Linked DNA regions of Homo sapiens. The protein of the gene in region 2 interacts with the protein of the main gene of each other region in a pairwise test. Each region holds a gene or a part of one and is shown on either strand. Other genes may lie near its edges. The genes, in order: ZMYM5 and MORC3.

What was found.
Region 1: the proteins of MORC3 (region 2) and ZMYM5 interact in a two-hybrid assay, tested with the Homo sapiens proteins (one large-scale study listed by BioGRID and IntAct).

What each region holds. Positions count from the first base shown.
Region 1 is NC_000013.11:19,857,150-19,860,649, forward strand, and holds part of ZMYM5 (zinc finger MYM-type protein 5), read right to left. Parts: intron 1-3,500. UniProt on the Homo sapiens protein: Functions as a transcriptional regulator.
Region 2 is NC_000021.9:36,371,960-36,374,953, forward strand, and holds part of MORC3 (MORC family CW-type zinc finger protein 3), read left to right. Parts: intron 1-414; coding exon 415-572; intron 573-2,994.

The DNA.
Region 1 (3,500 bases), on a different chromosome or scaffold from region 2:
ATAAAAAGGTATTTAGGCAAATACTATGCTACATTGCTACATGCTGGGATTTCAGCAACTGTCTAATTTTAAACATTTAACTAGTCTTCTTGTGGTATCTTATTCATACACAAATTATAACACTAGCAAAATGCTTACATGTAAACTATCTCTAGAGAATGGGAAACAACGTAAATTTAACGGGATATTTAGGTGTAAAGATAAGGGTTAACATAAAACAAAGAAATGAATAAATGTACTTTGACCTATTTAGCTCTTCTTGTAGACTACTTTCAGAGACACTTCACAGTTGAGTATATAAGCACACCTATTTAAAATCAGATATAAAGGTGTACCATGACTCTGAAGGTACTCACAAAAGTAATGAGATCAGAAAAAAGAAGAGTCAACTGAACTACTACCACAAATAGCAAGAGAATTACTGCAGGAACTAGGTACAAAATTACTATCTAAATTGGGCCTGGTGCCTCACACCTATAATCCTAACACTTAGGGAGGCCAAGGCAGGAGGATCACTTGAGGCCAGGAGTTCAAGACCAACTTGGGCAACAAACTGAGAACTCATCTCTACAAAAAAATAAAGGCCAGGTACAGTGGCTCATGCCTATAATCTGAGCACTTTGGGAGGCTGAATAAGATGGGAGGATAGCTTGAGCCCAGGAGTTCAAGACCAGCCTGGGCAATGCAGAGAGACCCCTCTCTACAAAAATTTAAAAAGTCCAACATGGTGGCATACGCCTGTAGTCGCTGCTACTTGGGAGGCTGAGGTGGAAGGATGGCTTGAGCCCAGGGGGTCAAAGTTGCAGTGAGCCATGATCACACCACTGCACTCCAGCCTGGGCAACAGAGCAAGACCCTGTCTCAAAAATAAAAAATAAATATAATAAAATAAAATAATTAGCTGGGCATGGTGGTGCACGCCTGTAATCCCCAGCTACTTGGGAGACTGAGGCAGGAGAATCACTTGAGCCCAGGAGTTCAGGGCTGCAGTGAGCTATGACCACACCACAGCACTAAAGTCTGGGCAACAGAGTTAGACCTGTCTCTAAAAATTAAAAAAAAAAAACAAAAAAACCACAAAGACAAAAAACAAACAGAAAAAACAACTCTGCCTAGAAATCACTAGCCCAGCAGGGATTAAGACAGTAAAGTGGGCCAGGTGCAGTATAATGCCCCTGTAATCCCAGCGCTTTGGGAGGCCTAGGCAGGTGGATCGCTTGAGTCCAGGAGTTCAAGACCAGCCTAGGCAACATGGCGAAACCTTGTCTCTACAAAAAATACAAAAATTAGCCAGGCATAGTGGCACATGGTTGTGGTCCCAGCTACTTGGGAAACTGAGGCAGGCAGCTTGTTTGAGCCTGGGAGATAGAGGCTGCAGTGAGCCGAGATGGGCCACTGCACTCCAGCCTGGGTGACAGACTGAGAGACGCTGTTTCAAAAAAAAAAAAAAAAAAAAAAAGATGGCCGATTGATCACATACAACTAACTTCGTTCCCTTCCAAAACTCCCCTAAACAGGACTACCACAAGGAAAGGAAGAATAAGAAACAAAAGCAATATGATTTTATAAGCCAAAGAACAGATGGATGAATGGTTAACTGCCAACCTGAGATAGCCAGAGTCTAAAACAGTGAATAAAAAGCCAAGAAACATTCTGATTTCCACTGTAGGCTCAGAAATCTGTAGCACCACATATCCCTGGAACAGAATGGGCAGATGCTAAGAAAAGAGGTTGAGAGATATCTTCCCTCCCATCAAGTTGATGGTGACAGGCCTTTCCCCATCCTAGCACAGATTCTAAAAATTTTTTCTTTGATAAGATAGAACATAAGATCTAAGTCTTGGGTTCACCAAGCACTGGGGAATGTTTCAATACCATGAAATATCTCCTCTCCATTGCTTGAACCCAGGAGGCAGAGGTTGCAGTGAGCCGAGATCACGCCACTGCATTCCAGCCTGGGCAACAAGAGCAAAACTCCATCTCAAAAAAAAAAATGTCCCCTCTCCTACTTGATTCCCAGAGAGCTGGCATCCAGACTTCTATTTTCCAGGCAGCAAACTCTTTTCTGGAGGCTTTCTTTCTGAGCAAGACTCTTCCCTGCGGAACTAAGAATCAGCAAAAAAGGAAAGTCCTAAAAATATTAACCTATGGGGTTCCCCATCAATTGGCCAGAAGATCACCCGCAAGCTTCAAGTTGGAAACCCCACTCTCACTCTTCCAATTTGCTTTTTAGTTCCCGTTTTTTGTTTGTTTGTTTGTTTGTTTGTTTTTGAGACGGAGTCTCGCTCTGTCACCCAGGCTGGAGTGCAGTGGCGCGATCTTGGCTCACTGCAAGCTCCACCTCCCAGGTTCACGCCATCCTCCTGCCTCAGCCTCCTGAGTAGCTGGGACTACAGGCACCTGCCACCATGCCCAGCTGATTTTTTTTTTTGTATTTTTTGTAAAGATGGGGTTTCACCGTGTTAGCCAGGATGGTCTCAATCTCCTGACCTCATGATCTGCCCACCTTGGCCTCCCAAAGTGCTGGGATTACAGGTGTGAGCTACTGTGCCCGGCCTTTAGTTCCCAATTCTTAATCATAAATAAAACAGTCAAGAATTATGCAATATATGTAACACCTACTATGTACCCACAAAAATTTTAAATAAAAATTTTTAAAAAACTAATTACACAGGCCGGGTGTGGTAGTGGGTGCCTATCATCCCAGCACTTTGGGAGGCCAAGGCGGGCGGATCACTTAGGTCAGGAGTTCGAGACCAGCCTGGCCAACATGGTCAGTCCCTTGTCTCTACTAAAAATACAACAATTAGCCAACGTGGTGGCATGTACCTATAGTCTCAGCTACTCAGGAGGCTGAGGCACAAGAATCGCTTGAGCCCAGGAGGCAGAGGTTGCAGTGAGCCTAGATCACGCCATTGCACTCCAGCCTGGGTGACAGGGCAAGACTGTCTCAAAAAAAAAAAAAAAAAAAAAAAGAGGAAAAAAAAAGAATTATAGATGGAGTCTCACTCTGTCGCCCAGGCTGGAGTGCAGTGGTGTGATCTTGGCTCACTGCAACCTCCGCCTCCTGGGTTCAAGTGATTCTCCTGGCTCAGCCTCCTGAGTAGTTGGAATGACAGGCACCCACCAGCACACCCGTTTAATTTTTTTTTTTTTTTTTGAGACAGAGTTTTGCTCTTGTTGCCCAGACTGGAGTGCAATGGCACAATCTCGGCTCACCATAACCTCTGCCTCTCAAGTAGCTGGTATTACAGGCATGTGCCACCAGGCCCGGCTAATTTTGTGTGTGTGTGTGTGTATGTGTGTGTGTGTGTGTGTGTGTATTTTTTTTTTTGTAGTGACAGGGTTTCTCCATGTTGGTCAGGCTGGTCTTGAACTCTCGACCTCAGGTGATCTGCCTGCCTTGGCCTCCCAAAGTACTGAGATTCCAGGTGTGAGTCACCATGCCCAGCCCATTTTTGTATTTTTAGTAGAGACGGGGTTTCACCATGTTGACCAGG
Region 2 (2,994 bases):
GCTGCCATCACACCCAGCTAATTTTGTATTTTTTGTAGAGATGGGGTTTCTCCATTTTGGTCAGGCTGGTCTTAAACTCCTGATCTCAGGTGATCTGCCCACCTCAGCCTCCCAAAGTGCTGGGATTATAGGCGTGAGCCACCATGCCCGGCTGGTTTTTCATTTTCTAGGTACCACTTTTTTTTTTAAATCAAGTGGTAATATGTTGTATTCTCTCAGTGTAAAAAGATGTAGAAGTGAAGCTGTAAACGAATGAAGCCTTGTTTATAGAAAACTACTGGTTTTTCTTTGTGTATTTGTTTTTTGATAGTTGATAATGTTATCAAGCAGGTTCTCTATATTAGCTTGAAATTTCACTTTGCCATTAGTATTTTTAAGTTTTACAGTTATAAAGCTCATTTATATTTTTGTTAGGTTGAATTGCTGGAAATGGAAAAGTCACAAATCCGTTCACAGTGTGAAGAACTCAAAACTGAAGTAGAACAGTTAAAATCTACAAATCAACAGACGGCAACAGATGTTTCAACATCAAGTAACATTGAGGAGTCTGTAAATCATATGGATGGAGAAAGGTAATATTAAATGAGGCGTTTTTGTGGGGCTGCAATTATGGTTAGGATACTATTTATTTTTATCTGCTAGCACCCATCAAATAGATACTGTTCTGTCAAAAGAAGTTATTGATGGTCTGCTGTGACCCTGGTGTTATGATAGATAAAAAAGAAGTGACACTTCATTATCCTTCCTTTCCAGTTTCTGACCCTTTAGGTTCTATTTAAGTGGAATAGGAATTTAGAAGGGATAAAGCATTTGATTGGTCAGAGTGGTTTTAGAATGCTTTTTGAAGGAAAATAAAAATGGACAAGATATTGAAGAATAGGGGGAATTTGGCCATGAGTAGAAGACAGGAGACTTTTACTGAAACTCACTCCTTCAACCTGTTTTTCTTTTATTGTCGTACTTGGTACCATGTCTTTATGGCTTGCTGTCCTTATTTCACTGTATGCTCACTCTAATCTTTTAGGAAATTGCAAAATTATTAAAAATTGCCATAGTACAGATGATATTAGGAAGAAGTCCTATTAAAACAAGTAGATAGGCCAGGCGTGGTGGCTCACACCTATAATTCTAGCACTTTGGGAGGCTGAGTTGGGCGGATCACCTGAGGTCAGGAGTTCAAGACCAGCCTGGCCAACATGGTGAAACCCTGTCTCTACTAAAAGTACAAAAATTAGCCGGGCGTGGTGGCAGGCGCCTGTAGTCCCAGCTACTCGGGAGGCTCAGGCAGGAGAATCGCTTGAACCTAGGAGGTGGAGGTTGCAGTGAGCCGAGATTGCGCCACTGCACTCCAGCCTGGGTGACAGAGCAAGACTCTGTCTTAAAACCAAGCGTGGTGCCTCATGCTTGTAATCCCAGCACTTTGGGAGGCCAAGATGGGTGGATCACTTGAGGTCAGGAGTTCGAGACCAGCCTGACCAACATGGTGAAACCCCGTCTCTACTAAAAATACAAAATTAGCTTGGCATGGTGGTGCACACCTGTAACCCCAGCTACTTGGGAGGCTGAGGCAGGAGAATCGCTTGAACCTGGGAGAAGGAGGTTGCAGTGAGCCAAGATCGCGCCATCACGCTGTGGCCTTGGCAACAAGAGCAAAACTCCGTCTCAAAAAAAAAAAAAGCTGGTATGGGAACGATTAAAGTATTATCAAAGGTCTAGTGGACTCTTACCATAAAAGCTCACAAAAAAACATGCTCAAAATCACATTCTCCGCATTATCAGACTAAGGAAGAACATCTTGATCCCTTCATAGATTTCCACTCGAGAAAAATCAGTATCTAAATTAAATATGGACTTATTATATTGTAGTGGGGTAGGGAACAAGAACAACTGTAACACTCATTTTATGTGTTTGCCATAATATTTGAAGCAAAAGCTGCCTTACAGTTTAGGTGTTTATTGCTTAAATACTTTTGGGCATTTTTTAAAAAGTCTAGAATGTTGATATTCATAAACTTGGAAGGCATAATTATCTTAATCTATGGTTTCCCAGTGTTTTCAGCAAACCATTGTTCTCTGTAAATGCACGGTAACTTAAGCATGTAATAGGATCAGAGCAGTCCTACAATTATTATTATTATTATTTTTTTGGAGACAGAGTCTTGATCTGATGCCCAGGCTGGAGTACAGTTGCATAATCTCGGCTCACTGCAACCTCTGCCTCCCAGGTTCAAGCAATTCTCCTGCCTCAGCCTCACCAGTAGCTGGGACTATAGGTGTGCGCCACCACGCCCAGCTACATTTTGTATTTTTAGGGAGAGACGGGGTTTCACCATGTTGATCAGGCTGGTCTTGAACTCCTGACCTCAGGCGATCTGCCCGCCTCAGCCTCCCAAAGTGCTGGGATTACAGGCGTGAACCTCTGTGCCCGGCGTAAAAAAAAAGCTGCTTTAACATTGTTTAACACAATGTTTTGCAAGCTTATTTGACCACAGAACCTTTTATTACCTCTTACACAACTATGGATATCTTATAGAACATGTTTTAGATAATTCTGGCTAAGCATGGTGGTTCATGCCTGTAATCCCAGCACTCTGAGGTGGGCAGAATGCTTGATTGAGCCCAGGAGTTTGAGACCAGCCTGGGCAATATAGTGAAACCCCATTGCTACAAATAATAATAATAAAAATTAACCGGGCATGGTGGTGTGGGCCTGTGCTTCCAGCTACTCAGGAGGCTGAGGTGGGAGAATTGCGTGAACCCTGGAGAGCAGTGGTGCCATCGCAGCTCACTGCAGCCTTGACCTCCTGGGCTCAGGTGATCCCCCACCTCACCCTCTTGAGAAGCTGAGACTACAGGTGTCGTCACCAAGCCCGGCTAATATTTTGTGTTTTTAGTAGAGTCAGGGTTTCACCATGTTGGCCAGGCTGGTCTCGAACTCCTGGGCTCCAGCGATCTCCCTCCTCGGCTTCACAAATGCTGGGAATACAGGCATGG